2 separate regions of the Homo sapiens genome follow, and region 2 is linked to region 1. Evidence: fine-mapped expression QTL. Tissue or cell type: whole blood. Region 1 holds a variant in brackets; the other region holds the start of a gene. All regions are shown on one strand. Distances are from middle to middle.

Evidence for each region. PIP is the estimated chance that this variant, and not a neighbour inherited with it, causes the effect.
Region 2: ASAP3 starts here. The variant in region 1 is fine-mapped to the expression of ASAP3 in whole blood (INTERVAL, PIP above 0.99).

What each region holds. Positions count from the first base shown.
Region 1 is chr1:23,427,933-23,435,693 of GRCh38, reverse strand. It overlaps ASAP3 (ArfGAP with SH3 domain, ankyrin repeat and PH domain 3), which reads left to right. Exons shown (of 25, transcript NM_017707.4): 18 at 1,076-1,161; 19 at 1,325-1,440; 20 at 2,001-2,068; 21 at 2,162-2,269; 22 at 2,422-2,617; 23 at 3,776-3,998; 24 at 4,569-4,659; 25 at 5,764-7,131. The coding sequence ends at 5,838. It overlaps LOC124903875 (a long non-coding RNA gene), which reads right to left. Exons shown (of 3, transcript XR_007065535.1): 3 at 6,711-7,761. Among named protein-coding and RNA genes, the nearest start is that of TCEA3, 7.1 kb to the right of the region's middle. The variant A/TA (reference allele first, on the strand shown) is at 3,689.
Region 2 is chr1:23,480,282-23,488,042 of GRCh38, reverse strand. It overlaps ASAP3 (ArfGAP with SH3 domain, ankyrin repeat and PH domain 3), which reads left to right and starts at 3,864. Exons shown (of 25, transcript NM_017707.4): 1 at 3,864-4,038. The coding sequence starts at 3,910. RefSeq lists an enhancer at 3,000-3,099 and silencers at 3,290-3,339, 3,350-3,459, 3,580-4,029.

The DNA of each region.
Region 1 (7,761 bases):
GGCAGACCTGGGTGGGAATCCTGGCTCTGTTTTTTCCTAGCTGTGTGATCTAGGGCAGGTTACTTCTCTGAGTCTCATTTCCTCATCTATAAAAGGGGTTAATAATAGCACCCACGGTGATGAAGTGAGAAGTCATGTATATAAAGGGCTTAGTGTACAATGGGCATGCAATAAACGTTAATATCTTTTTCTTTCACCTAAATAGCCCTGAAATATAAGGGCATGTCAGTTTAGAGCCAGGAAGGCCACATTGCTTTGGCTATTCCAAGAACAAACACATGAGCATGGAGAAAGGATATCAGAGACATTTGAAAAAGTAAATCAACAGGAGTTGCTGACTGATTCGACATCAAAAATTGGATGTTGGCTGGGTGTGGTGGCTCACGCCTGTAATCCCAACACTTTGGGAGGCCAAAGTGAAAGGATCACTTGAGCCCAGGAGTTCAGAATCAGCTTGGGCAAAATAAGGAAACCCCCATCTCTACAACAACAACTAAAATTAGCTGGGTATGGTGGCACACACCTGTGGTCCCAGCTACTCAGAAGGCTGAGGTGGGAGGGTGGCTTGAGCCCAGGAGGTTGAGGCTACAGAGAGCTGTGATTGCGCCACTGCTCTCCAGCTTGGGTGACAAAGCGAGACCCTGTCTCAGAAAAACTAAAAACGGGTATCTTTGAACTGTCTGTCTGATATCTTGGTGGGCTATCCAATGGGCAGTGCAGCACTTAGGTGAGGTAAGAATTTGGAACAGCCTGCACATGTGTGATAGTTGAAAATGTGAGGTTGCTGAGGTCTTGGTGGGGAAGTGCGATCAGGGAGAGGAGCCGAGAGCTGAGAAAGAAGTTTGGGAAACACTTGTTGGGGGCAGAGGAGGAAGAGCCGTGAATGGGAACAATGGGAGAATGGCCCTTCACCTTCCTCCCAGACATGAGGCTCTGCCCTTGCAGTCTCATCTCTCCAGGGTTCTGGCAGCTTCCTATGGGGGGATAAGGGGTTAGCAAGAGTTCAAGAGGGAAATACTGGGTTGGAGGCAGGTGCACTGGGGGGGGAATCTCAGAGGTGTGGATGTGTTTTCAGGCACCTGAAGAACTCGTCTTGCATTTGGCTGTCAAAGTCGCCAACCAGGCTTCCCTGCCTCTGGTGGATTTCATCATCCAGAACGGGTGAGAGCCTCCCTGCCTGTCTGTCTGGCTCCTCACACTCCCTCTCCTTTCCTTCCTCTTCTCCCATTCTCTTCCCTCCTTTCCCCTCCCACTTTTTCCCCTGACTTTGATCCCCTCATTGATCTGTTCCCCTTCCTTTCTCCCTGAACCCTCCTCTCCCCAGTGGTCACCTGGATGCCAAGGCTGCTGACGGGAACACGGCTCTGCACTACGCAGCACTCTACAACCAGCCCGACTGCCTCAAGCTGCTGCTGAAGGGGAGAGCTTTGGTTGGCACAGGTGGGGCTTGAATACCTCCTCCGTCAGACTCCTATTCCTGACTACCCCTTATGTGGACTTCCGATGGTCTCGGGCTCTAATCCTGGCTTGCTTCTGACCACCTCTGTGATCTTAGGGGTTTGTCATTCAGCTCTTGAATTTCAGCTTCCTCATCTGTAAAATGGGAATAATACCACTGACCTAGCAGGACTGCTAAAGAAAAAAGAAAATAATATTTCTGGGAGTACTTAGGCAAATAAATATTAGCTAGATCTGAATGATAATGATTGTAATAGCTAATATGTATTGTTTAACATATGCCTGGCAATGGGACAAGTGCTTTTTGTATGTTAATTAATTGAATCCTCACAACCACTTCATCAGGTAGTTCCAAGTATTATACTCATTTCATAAACAATTTTGTCCCAAAAGGTTATATAACTTGCCTATGGTCACATAGCCAGAAAATGGCAGAGCCAGGATTCAAACCCATACATTCTGATTCCAGAGGCCCGTCTTAATCTCTAAGCTGTAATGTTTCTTTGACTATGACCATGAACCCTGACTTTCCCCGCTCACAGTAAATGAAGCAGGCGAGACAGCTCTGGACATAGCCAGGAAGAAGCACCACAAGGAGTGTGAGGAGCTGGTGAGGACTCGGGGAGGCAAGGGGCCCCTGACTCTTTCTCTCTCCCTGCTGAGCCCCCAACCCTCTGAACCACCAAGCCTTTGTTTTTGGCAGCTGGAGCAGGCCCAGGCGGGGACCTTTGCCTTCCCTCTACATGTGGACTACTCCTGGGTAATTTCCACAGAGCCTGGCTCTGACAGTGAGGAGGATGAGGAAGAGAAGGTGGGTCCCAGCCCTGTCCCTCAGGCCTCTGGATGGCAGAAGGAAAGAGCCAGATTGGGCCTGGTGTGTGTTGGCGGGGGCGGTGAGGCGGGGGGACAGGGCTACACCGGAGGAACCAGGCTGTCCTCATCCTCAATCTTTTGCTCTGGCAGCGCTGCTTGCTGAAGCTCCCGGCCCAGGCTCACTGGGCCAGTGGGAGGCTGGACATCAGCAACAAGACCTATGAGACTGTCGCCAGCCTGGGAGCAGCCACCCCTCAGGGCGAGAGTGAGGACTGTCCCCCGCCCTTGCCAGTCAAAAACTCTTCTCGGACTTTGGTCCAAGGGTGTGCAAGACATGCCAGTGGAGGTACAGTTGGATGCCCAGATAAATGCTCACCATGCCATTCACAGAGGACCTGTATATGCTGGGGCACTGAGCTGAGTGCATATGTTAGTCCGTACTATCCTTATGATGACCTCCCAGGAAGGGGTTCTCATCTTCCCCTTACAGATAAAAGAACAGAGGTGTTAAGTCACATGTTTAAGATCCCACAGCTAATAAGTCTCTGATGTAGGATTCAAATCTCAGCCCATCTTATTCCAAATTCCTCAATGCTCCACTTAACAAGAGAGAAACGAGTTTATTGAGCATCCCCTTCATCCTGAGTCCTTTGAGGGCTACCAAGACACAGTCTAGTAGGGGAGATAAAAACTGGAATGCAATTCATTATAATACAAGGCACAATGTGATATAGAATGTAAATCCCAAAAGGACAAGGACTTTGAGTGTTTCATTGAATACTATTTGTCCAGTGCCTAGCGCAGAGCCTGGCTGTTCTCAAGAACTATTTGTCGAATGAAGGAACAGACTTGTTGTGGGAGGTTGGGGCAGTTGGAGAGGGAGCATGTCCTGCTGGGATTGGGGGTTGGTTTAAGAAGGCTTCCTGGTGAGGATAGCATATGAGTGAACCTGAGGGATGAGCAGGAGAATCCAAACTGGGACAGGGTATGAGCACAAGCAAAAAAGTGAGTCAGCATGGCCCTGGCCACCGCGAACAAAGGCTTCATCAGTTGAAGGAGAATACTGGACAGGTAGATGGGGAATGGACTATTGGCAGAGAACCAGAAGAGATCCTAGGCCAGATGTGGTGGCTCGTGCCTGTAATCTCTGCACTTTGGGAGGCCGAAGCAGGCGGATCACCCCAGGTAAGGATTTTGAGACCAGCCCAGCCAACATGGTGAAACCCCATCTCTACTAAAAATGCAAAAATTAGCCAGGTGTGGTGGCATGCACCTGTAATCCCAGCTACTCTGGAGGCTGAGGCAGGAGAATCTCTTGAACCTGGGAGGCGGAGGTTGCAATGAGCCGAGATTGCACCACTGCACTCCAGCCTGGGTGACAGAGTGAGACTCTGTCTCAAAAAAAAAAAAAAAAAAA[A/TA]TCCTAGAGGCCAGAGACTGCTTTGAGGTTGGGCACAGAGCAAGTGATAAAGAAAAGCTTTATCATTTCTGATGTTTCTGATTCCAGATCGTTCTGAAGTCTCCAGCCTGAGTTCAGAGGCCCCTGAGACCCCTGAGAGCCTGGGCAGTCCAGCCTCCTCCTCCAGTCTGATGAGCCCCTTGGAACCTGGGGATCCCAGCCAAGCCCCACCCAACTCTGAAGAGGGCCTCCGAGAGCCCCCAGGCACCTCCAGACCCAGCCTGACATCCGGGACCACCCCTTCGGAGATGTACCTCCCCGTCAGATTCAGGTTGGTGAGGGCCCAGCTGTGCAACCAGGGCAAATCCCCTGACTTCTCTGAGCATCCATTGATTTCCACACCTCTAAATAGTACCTGCCTAAAGACTGGGTCACACGCCATCTCTGGGCCCATCACTTATGCAGAAATGCTGAACCCTGGGACCCCTTCCCCCTTCACACACTTGCTCCCAAATCCTGCATGGAGAGCTGAGGAGGAGCCAGGGATCCTCCCTGCTGATGTTGGAGTAAAGTAGGCTTAGCCCCCTGTGTGGCTTATTCTAGAGGCTCTCAGTGGGGTCTTCACTCTGTCCCCACCTCCAACCCAGGATCCAGTCTTCTCCCTTCCATACAAACCCATTCAGTCTGGAGTTTGGGGAGAAGTAGACCTGCAGATATCCACAGAGTCTTCTGGAGGTCAGTTCCAGCCTTCTTGGGCCTGTGATGGACCTGGCCTGGGGGCCTTGTGGACTCTACCCACCCATCCTAAGCCCCCAGACTGGCTCTGTTCCTGAGCCCTTTCTCCCCACTCTGAGGGGCTCTCTGGACATGAGGGTCATGTTGGCCTTTCCCTGCCTTCCAGCTCCGAGAGCACTCGCTCCTATCGGCGGGGGGCGCGGAGCCCTGAAGATGGTCCCTCAGCCAGGCAGCCTCTGCCCAGAAGGAACGTGCCGGTAGGAACTCTGGGACCATGGTTTGAGGGGCGGTGGCAGGGTGCCTGGGAGGCAGAGTTAGTCAAGAGTAGGCGTATTGGGGTGGGAGACCTCCCCATGGTTGGGGTACAGATGGGCCCAGGCAGCCACAGTTTGGACAGTCCCTGTCCTGGTGCCCAGGTGGGCACGGTTTGGCCAGTCCCTGTCCTGGTGCCCAGGTGGCCACGGTTTGGCCAGTCCCTGTCCTGGTGCCCAGGTGGCTGCAGTTTGGCCAGTCCCTGTCCTGGTGCTCCTCTTTCCATGCTCCAGCCCAGGGCTGGGTGAAGCTGAGGAGAGCCCAGGCCTTGAGGGATGGCAGTGATCATGAGGCCCAAGCTCTGGCTTCTCCCCAGGGGAGGATGAGGAAAGTTGTGTTAGCCAGGCCAGTCGCTCAGAGAAGGCATCACTTCCCTGCAGAAGAGGCAGGATTAGGTGGCCGTGTACCAGCCCTTGTTTGCCTAACTCTCCCCTTGTTCATGAGTCTCCTGGAATCCACAGGGACTTTCAGATCCCAGGCATAGAGGGATGTGACAGGGACAGGGCAAGAGCTGTCATCCTTAATCCAGCTTCTCCCTGCTGAATCACCAAGTCTCCAACAATGGCATATATTAGTTGAACCTAGGAGTGGGCACAGATCAGAGCCAGTTGTGTTGGGAAAGAAGCCTCTTCTGTCCCTTGTTCCTCTGGGAATTCCTCAGAATGGCATTGGTTGTGTTGGGAGTCAGGATGGCAGGGGCAAAAGCTGGTTCTGTCTGGGGAATCGTCATCTTTAGTCCACCAGAGTTAGTCAGCAGACACAAATCTATGTCCATATTCTGGTTCCACTATTGCCCTGAAAACCAAGTATCCATCAGATGGCATTTAATTGATGCCTGTGATTGTGGTGTGTATGATAGCAAGAGCTTGGGCTTTAGAGTAAGGAGACTTTGGATAAGTGGCTTCACTTCCTCAAGCCTCAGTTTCTTTGTCTGTAAAATGAGAATAATTTAATTTATCTACAATAGGACAGATGTGAAACTGAGTGAGATGAACACCTGGTATGTTACAGGTGCTTTGAAAATGTCAGTTTCATCCTTCTTTCTGCAGGTTGGCATCACTGAAGGAGATGGCTCAAGGACTGGGAGTCTCCCAGCAAGTTCTGTGCAACTTTTGCAAGACTAGCTCCTTGCTGGCCCCCACATGCCCCATGCTAGGCCCCAATGTTCAGAGCTGGGACTTGAGCTCACAAAACTGGGGAGCTGAGACATTTGTTCTCTTGGATCTCACTCTCTCTGTCCCTTGTGCCTCTGTAGCTGGCCTTCTTCCTGCCACAGGCCATGCCTCTACCAAGGACACATGGCCTTTCCCTGTTAGGACTGATGGCGGTTCTTTCCTATCTCATTACCCGCTAGGGGCCTGGGAGCCCTGTGGCTGGATCTGAGTGCTCCTGAGCTGGCTTCAGCTGCAGAACTCTCAGTCCCTCATCAGATCGAGACTCTATTTCCCCCGTCAGTCTGGGGGCTTCACAAGGGCAGGAGAGCCCTCCATCACTGACTTCCAGATCAGGGACCCTGCCAAGTAGGGACTGTCTTCTCAGCCAGCCATTTATTAGTCTAATATTCCTTCACTAAATTCCAACTCTATGTCTGGACCTGTGTTAGGCACTTCAGATACCACACGAGTAAGACAAGGGCCCTGCAGGGGTGGTCCTTTGGTGGAAAGCTGGTCTTAAGGGTTGGGCTTGGGAATAGGCAGGGTCAGATTCCAGGGCATGGCTCTGGACTCAGCTGGTTTATACCTATATGACCATTACAATTGTCTACAGATCACATCCATTCTGGCTGGTCAACATGCATGCTGTACTGGCTGTTAAATAAAAATATTCTGAATGTCACTCCTTTTGAGGGACAGCACAGCCTTCCCTAGGCATTCTCCTATATTCCCCAGCCAAATTGTAGAGTCAGATGCACCCACATTTGCCTGTGTCCTTGATTTAGCAGGAAGGAAAGGAATAGTCAGGGTTGATGGATGCCCACTTCTCTTCTCTTTCTCTTGGTCAACTCAGGAGCCTTTTAGTCTGAGGGAATGGAGAGGCAAAGAAAGAAGGGAGAGTAATAGAATTGGGAGGGCAGAGACTTAAGGGTTCTGCTTCCCAGCCCTAGAAATTCTATCATTGCTCAGCCCCAATGAGAAAGCAGATACACCTAAGCCATCATCAACCACTAACATCTCAACTTGCCAGTTGCTGGGTGCTGGGCCCTGGCAGGAATGGGCCAAGCCAAGCAGGGGAGACTAGAGAGCACCAATGGCCAACACAGCTGCCTGGCTGGGGAGGCTGTGCTGTTTCCCCTGGAGACCTGACTGGTCTGTGGTTCCCACAGGAACAGGGTTGTCTTTTGAGCCCCCAGTGTCTGGTTTCATTCATCTCAGACTTGTTATTTCACTCATCTCTAATAAAGGATTGGGGGGTCAGTTTCCAGTGGTTTCATTTATGTGATCTAAAGAGCAACAGGGAGGGGAAAGGAATCTTGGGGCTTGAAATTCTTTCTCTGGACCTGGCAAGGGAGATGGCCTGATGTGGAATAGTGGTTTGCAACCACAGTGTTTTGCCCCGGGGAACTTCTGATAAAGCAGAAAACAGTTTTGACTGTTCCCAACTGGAGGATGCTAGTGGCATTTAGTGGACAAAGGTCAGGGATGCTACTAAACATCCTACGGTGCATAGGTCAACCCTCCCTAGCAATGCATTATCCAGTCCAAAATGTTAATAGTGCCAAGGTTGAGAAACCCTGGAAAGAGCACTGGACTAGGAGTCTGGAGACCTGAAATTCTAGCTCTCCCATGGTCCTCTGCCACTGTCTCTGTTGACTGCCCCTGAGACAAGGATTTGGGAGCAAGTAGCTTATCTGTGAAATGATCCCAGGAAGCATAATGAGGGAATAGAGAAATGAAACAGAAAGTCAAAGATAAAGAGCTGTGCGTGTTGGTGAGAACCTATACTCCAGCTACTCGGGTGGGAGAATTGCTTGAGCCCAGGAGTTCAAGGCTGCAGTGAGCCATGATGGCGCCACTGCACTCCAGCCTGAACAACAGAGCGAGACTCTG
Region 2 (7,761 bases), 52 kb before region 1:
TGACTCCGAGGGGGTGCATGGTAATGCCTTCCATCAAGACAGGGACAGAAAACAATCTGGTGCAAGGAGTGGGCGTACGAGATGGTGAGTTCAGTTTTGGACCTGTAGAGTTTAAGGTGTCTGTCTGTGAGCCAGTGAAATGAAACTGTCTCATAGGTGGCTGGATACATAGATCTTGAACTAGAGAAGAGTCCAGGCTGGAAATACAGCCTTGGAAGATGTGATTGGCTCAGTAATGGCTCCCAAAGATATCCAGGTCCTAATCCATGGAACCTGTAAATGGCACTTATATAGCAAAAGAGATTTTGCAGGTGTGATTAAATTAAGGATTTTGAGATGGGGAGATTATCCTGGATTATCTGGATAGGCCCTAAATGTAATCACAAATGTCCTTATAAGAGGGAGGCTGAGCACTTTGAGAGGTCCAGGTGGGTGGACCACTTGAGGTCAGGAGTTGGAGACCAGTCTGGCCAACATGATGAAACCCTGTCTGTACTAAAAATACAAAAAATAAAAATATAAGTAAATAAAAAATAAAAATAAAAAATTAGCTGGGTGTGGTGGCATGGGCCTGTAATTCTAGCTACTCAGGAGGCTGAGGCACAAAAATCCCTTGAACCTGTGAAGCAGAGGTTGCAGTGAGCTGAGATCACACCACTGCACTCCAGCCTGGGCGACAGAGAGGCATCACGTCTCAAAAAAAAAAAAAAAAAAAAGAGAGAGGTTGAACTAGCTGGGCGTGGTGTCATGCACCTGCAGTCCCAGCTACTTGGGAGGCTGAGGTGGGAGGATCGCAAAAGCCCAGGAGGTTGAGACTTCAGGGAGCTGTGATCACTCCACTGCTTGGAGTGACAGAATGAGACCCTGCCTCAAAAAAAAAAAAAAAAAAAAAAAAAAAGAGGGGGCCGGGCGCCGTGGCTCATGCCTGTAATCCCAGAACTTTCGGAGGCCGACGCGGGTGGATCTCCTAAGGTCAGGAGTTCGAGGACCAACATTGAGAAACCCCATCTCTACTAAACATACAAAATTAGCCGGGCATAGTGGCGCATGCCTGTAATCCCAGCTACTCTGGAGGCTGAGGCAGGAGAATCGCTGGAACCCGGGAGGCGGAGGTTGTGGTGAGCTGAGATCGCACCATTGCACTTCAGCCTGGGCAACAAGAGTGAAACTCCGTCTCAAAAAAAACAAAAAAAAAACAAAAAGAAGAGGGGTGGGGAGGCTGGGAGAAATTTGATCACAGGGAAGAAGGCAAGTAAGATGCTTGAAGATGCTGCTGCCCTTGAAGGTGGAAGGTGCCATAAGCCAAAGAATGCAAAAACTACAGCTCTCGAAGCTGCAAAAGCAAGAAAACAGATGCTCCCTTATAGCATCCAGAGGAAGTACAGCCCCACTGATACCTTGATTTTAGCCCAGTGAAAGTTATTGCAGACTTGTGACCTCCAGACATGTAAAAGAATAAATGTGGCCAGGCGCAGTGGCTCATGCCTGTAATCCCAGCACTCTGGGAGGCCGAGGTGGGCGGATCACCTGAGGTCAGAAGTTCAAGACCAGCCTGGCCAACACGGCGAAACCCCGTCTCTACTAAAAAATACAAAAATTAGCTGGGTGTGGTGGCACGTGCCTGTAATCCCAGCTACTCGGGAGGCTGAGGGAAGTTATTGGTGATTTGTTATAGTAGCAACAGGAAACTAGTACAGAAGACATCAACATTACCGTTGGGATTGGATGAAGAAATCCAGGAAGGCTGATAGAGTGAGACATGCAGAGGATTTAGCAGAGAGCTCCCAACAACTCCAGCATTTAAGATCCCTGCGGAGGAAGTGCATCTCAGAAAGGGCTCTTGGAACAGCCAGAGGGAGAGGGCCACCAAAGAAAATAGTTCTCCTAGGATTCAGGGGCAAGGGTGTTTCAAGGAGAAGGGAGTGGTTAACATTGTCAGATGCTCCTAAAAGTCAAGCAAGAAAAGTGCCTAAGCTCAGGAGTTTGAGGCTGCCTTGAGCTATGATCATTGCACTGCACTTCAGCCTGGGCGACAGAGTGAGACCTTGTCTCTAAAAATAAATAACAAGAAAAGTGCCTATTTGGTTTCAACAGGAGAAGTTGACCTTGAAAGAACTCTTGGAATAGTTGTCGTCTCTATCAGATGGTACACATTTTTTTCAACTTTTAATTCTTTTTTCTTTCTTTTCTTTTTCTTTTTCTTTTTTTTTTTTTTTGAGACAGGGTCTCACTTTGTCACCCAGGCTGGAGTGCAATGGCAGGATCTCAGCTCACTGCAAACTTGACCTCCCAGGTTTAAGCCATTTTCCTGCCTCAGCCCACCAAGTAGCTGGGACTACAGGCAAGAGCCACCACGCCGGGCTAATTTTTGTATATTTTGTAGAGACAAGGTTTCGCCATGTTGCTCAGGTTGGCCTTGAACTCCTGAACAATCCGCTCACCTCGGCTTCCCAAAGTGCTAAGATTACAGGCATGAGCCATCGCTCCCGTCAACTTTTAATTCTATTACACAGTAGTATATGGTCATTGTATAAAAGTTAGGATATACAGATTCACCAAAAGAAAAGAAAGTTACTCATAATGTCTTCAGCTAGTGCATATCTGTCTTCAGCTAGTGCATAAAATGTTGCTGGTGCAACATTTTAGTGCATATCTTTCCGGATTTTTTCTTTTCTTTTCTTTTCTGTGCGAGAAAAGAAAAGATTCTCTCAATCGCCGCCCTGTGGGGTAAAATACCATGAGGCCATTTTAAGAGGGGGAAATGCAGGCTTAGAGAAGCAAGCAATTTATCCAAAGTAACCAAGATTGGAATCTAGGTTCCTCTGACTCCAAAACCAATGTTCCTTGCTGCGGTGCTTTCCTAGCTTTTTACTTGGAGAACTTTTCCCCAGAGGACCTCAGGCTTCAGAACTAAACCTAAGTGGATTTCTATCCTGAACCCCATCCCTCATCCGCCCCAAAGGATGGTGAGCCAGATTAAGGGGTGAAAGGCAGGAGCAGGAAGAGTAAAGGCGTGGGTGCGATCTATGGTCGGGTAAGAGGGAACTAGTACACGCACGTGTTCGGTTCTTCGCAACATCACAATCAAGCGGGCATCAGGCTTCCCATTGTACAGATAAGGAAACTGAGGTTCCAGAAGAGAAGTAATTTTCCCCAAGTCACACAGCTAGCCAGGGGCCCCGATCCACACATCCCCGGGGCGGCGGGGGTTATCAGGAGGGAGTCTCCGGATGCCTGCAAAGCTGAGGCTGAGAGCTGGGCGTACGCAGCAAAGGAGGGGTGGGGCGATTCGGGGCGGAGCGAGGCAAGGAGATTGGGCGGGACTGGGGAGAGAGGAGGGAAGGGTGGCGGGGGGGTGGTAGGGCAGAAGGGGCGAGGTCATGGGGAACTCGGAACGAATCAGCAGAGGAGGGAGGAAGAGGGAGGGGGCTCTAAGACTCGACGCGGAGATGGAACAGCCTGGGCCGTGCAAGGGAGGAGGATTTGGAAGACCCAGAGCGGGATGAAACGGGACAGAGCCCTGAAGGGGCAGGGATGGGGGAAGGCGGAGGAGTTTCTACTGAGGCCAGGGGTGGGGCATCGCGCCAGGGGGCGGGGTCTGAGGCGGTGAGGGGCTGGGGGCGTGGCCTAGGGGGCCGGCGAGGGGCCGGGGAAGCGGCCTGACGCGGTGCGGGGCCGGGACCGGGGCCGGAGCCTGGACCTTGGCGGTGGAGGAAGGCGAGGAGCCGGGGGCGGGGCCGTCCCAGCTGAGGAGCGGAGAGCGGCTGGAGGGTCGGGGGCGGGGCGTGCGGAGGGGCGGGGCGTGTGGAGGCCGGGACGGCGCCCCCGGCCGGCGGTGAGGCCGGCTCAGCGCGGAGCAGCTCAGTGCCCCCCGCGCCCCGCTCCGGCAGCTCCACGCTCGCGCCCGCCATGCCGGAGCAGTTCAGCGTCGCCGAGTTCCTGGCCGTCACCGCGGAGGACCTCAGCTCCCCGGCTGGGGCCGCCGCCTTCGCCGCCAAGATGCCCCGGTACCGAGGGGCGGCGCTGGCGCGGGAGGAGGTGAGGGGGCCGAGGCGGGAGGGGTCGGGGGTCGGCGCCGGGCCTGGCCTTGACCTCCACAGGCGTGTCGCACCCGAGCTGCGATGGCCCTTCACCGCGCCCCGAAACCTGCCCCCTCCCTAGGTCTGGGAGGACCGAGCGCATCTCCAACAGCTGCGTCCTCACCGTCGAGGCGGGGGAAGGCCCGAGGGACCGTTTTGGGGGGCCTCGAGGTCTCTTCGATGACAAACTCCACAGGTCGGGGGACGTACCCCAAGTGCCCCGCGTGACCGCCTCATCACATATGTGTTTGCCTAGCGCCTTCCAGCCTCAGTTTGCGTTTTCATCTTCGGAGCCCCACAAGTGTGCCCCCCGAGTCACTCCCCTTCTGAGAGGCAGGCTTCCCGCCTCAGTCCTGAACTTTCTTCCCCCCGGCTGCAGAGAGGCCCCCTCCCGCTTGCGGCTGGTTCGGAGATTTGGCCCGCGTTTGTGGAATGAATGCGGATGGGAAGGCGCCAGGAGCCGGGGTTCACCTTGGCCGGGCTGTTGGCAAGTTTATCGTCTCCTCTCCCCTCCCCTCTCCTCTTTGTCTTTCCCAGCAAAGCGTCCCAGGCCTTTTCTTTCGGTCTTGCAGGCTGCCCCACCCCATTCCCATGCTCTTCGGAGTTCCTTCCATTCCTCTTCTCTGAACCTGCTGCAGCTTTCCGCAGCTCCTCTGCAAAGAATATTCTAGGACAGACACCCCGTGGCCTTGGTCCAACGGAGAATAATGTGTTTTTGCAGCTCCCCATCCAAAGGATGCCCTCAATTTGGGTGGCATTTTGGACCTCAGCAACGGCTCTAGCCTTCCACCCTTCACCTTAAGTGTACTAGGCACCCACTGCGTGGCAGATACAAAGCTCAGTAGTTCATAACACCCTGCGCCAGTGTCAGGAAATCTGTCCTCTTCTCTCTTGTCAGGGTGACCCTCCATCTCGGAGTCTGTTTGTATCACTTTGTAAGGGTGATAGAGGATTGTGGAAGGAGCATCGACTTTGGGGAAGGCAGACCTTTTTTCTTTCCTTTTTTTTTTTTGAGACGGAGTCTCGCTGTGTCGCCCAGGCTGGAGTGCAGTGACGCGATCTTGGCTCAATGCAAACTCCGCCTCCCAGGTTCACACCATTCTCCTGCCTCAGCCTCCCGAGTAGCTGGGACTACAGGCTCCCGCCACTACGCCTGGCTAATTTTTTTTTTGTATTTTTAGTAGAGACGGGGTTTCACCGTGTTAGCCAGGATGGTCTCGATCTCCTGACCTCATGATCCGCCCGTCTCGGCCTCCCAAAGTGCTGGGATTACAGGCGTGAGCCACCGCGCCGGCCAAGGCAGACCTTTTTTCAAACGCTGGCTCTGCAGTTTGCCATTTGGGTGAACGTGGGCATGTGACCTGTCCTGTCATCTGTGGAATGGGGGTAATAATGTGTACCTCACATGAGACAATGCATATAAAGCATGCATCTTTTTTTTGGAGACAGAGTCTTGCTCTGTCTCCCAGGCTGGAGTACAGTGGTGCGATCTCAGCTGACTGCAATCTCTGCCTCCCGGGTTCAAGCAATTCTCATTCCTCAGCCTCCCAAGCAGCTGGAATTACAGGCATGCTCCACCACACCCGGCTAATATTTGTATTTTTAGTAGAGACAGGGTTTCACCATGTTGGTCAGGCTGTTCTTGAACTCCTGAGCTCAGGCAGTCTATCCGCCTTGGCCTCTCAAAGTACTAGGATTATAGGTGTGAGCCGCTGCACTGGCCCATGCCTCTTGATAAATGGAATGATTATCGTCAGATTAATCGGCAGATCTCTTTAGACAGTGATTGGGTCTCTTTTGTCTTCATTTGTCTCACAGAGCCTCACCTTGTCTCATTTGTCTCACGGAGCCTAGCCTACTACTTTGCACATAGTAGGGGTACATGTTTTATTAAAATAAGAAGCAGCCGGTCAGATTTGGCTTCCTTCCTTGGGCAGAGTCCACTGCCTGTGGATGTGGGTTATATTTTACTGTGGGGCTCACAGGGAAACACTGCTGTCCAGCCCATCCTTTGGAGAGCTTCCTGAGATTTGTCTTCATAGCCTCACATTTCATGACCCAGAATAGCTCAGTGCCATCCACATTCTTAGGGATTTCATGGTTCATCCTCCTCCCCAGGTTGTTCATTAGAATCTTAGAGCAGGAGAAGGGGCTCCAATATGAACCTTATCCATGGACAGAAATGCCCATTTATGCCCATACATCTGGCCTTGCCTGGCTGTGTAAGTGTAAGCACTGTGTGTTGGGGGAGGGACCCTTAGAATGGGTCTGGAGGCCACAGCAGGCTCTGTTCAGGGCTCAGCTTTGCCCCAGTTCAGGCAAGACAAAACCCATCCTCCTTTGCCTTCAGATTTTTGGTTTGGTGCACGTAGAGGTTCATTGTTACAACAGAAAGGCTTGCGGCACCCAAACACAGCTTTTCTCTTCAGCATCTCAGGGCCCAAAAAGTTAGAGTCTGAACTTTGGATTAGACTTCCCTGAGGTTTCCTGTTTGGTTTTGCATTTGCATTTATATTTTGCGATTATATTGTGTTTACATATAGTTTGATGCTGCAATTTTTTCCCCCAGTTCTGGGCTTGACTAACCCACCCCCAGGCTTGTAGCTCTATTTGACTGAATCAAAATGCAACTGATTCTTAAGTCAAGTCTTCCAGTTCTGACTGGTTTCCTGGGAGTAACTAGGGACCCTGTCCTGGGACTCGCAGCCCTTTTGTACAGTCCTGCTGGGAAGGACCCTGGGCAGATCACAGGAAACTAGAATGTCAGGGCTGAGGGACCCTTTTAAGATAGAGACCAGCTAGAAACTCTCTCAGATAAGATGGAGTAACTGATGTCCAGAGAGGCCAAGAGACTTGGCCAAGCTCCTGCGGCTGGATAGTGGGAAAGTTAGCATTTCTACCCACGTGTTCTACCCCCGGTCCTGTTCTCTTTCCTTTTAAAGTCCATCTGTCTGTCCTCCCTACGTAACTTCTCTGAACCTTGTTATTTTATCCTTAAAATGGATCTCTTAATCACTCCCTGCTTACCTTACTGGGTTGTTAAAGTTTTTTGTGTTCAATTATGAAGCACCATGCAAATGTGAGGGAGTATATTAAGATAGTCATTACGTCAACCAGCCTCTTCCTGTCTTGGGCCCCTTTATGCCCATCATCTCATTGATATTCACAACAACAGGTGAAACCGGGCCTAGGGCAGTGGAGGCAGCTGCCCTGTGTCACACAGTGGGTCTCTCTGACTCTGCTGTGCTCTGCCTGGGCTCTGTCCAGCTCTCTGTGCCATCTCTATGGACATAAAGGACACTAAGGACATAAAGATGCTACTTTGATTTGCTGACTGACTAGGGAGAAGTAGCCTGTTACAGGGAGATCAGTAAGAACCCCAGGAGTTTGTCCTGAGTCCCCAGAGAAAGGTACAGTCAATGCCATAAGAGGCAAGTGGAGCAGGAGAGGGAGAGAGCAGTAAGGACTGGTGCAATGAGGGAGAAGTTCCTGGAGGAGGTGACACTTCCAGGTGGAAGGATAGATGAACCCCATTTATCGGAGAGGACAAGGGAGTGAATTCAGAGACTGGTGGGAAGAGAGCATATTGGGAACCAAGTAAGCCATTTTGACCAGAGCTAAGAATTCATACTATATTGTGTGCCTCAAACTGCTAGTGGACACACCCCCTCCAGTAGGTCTC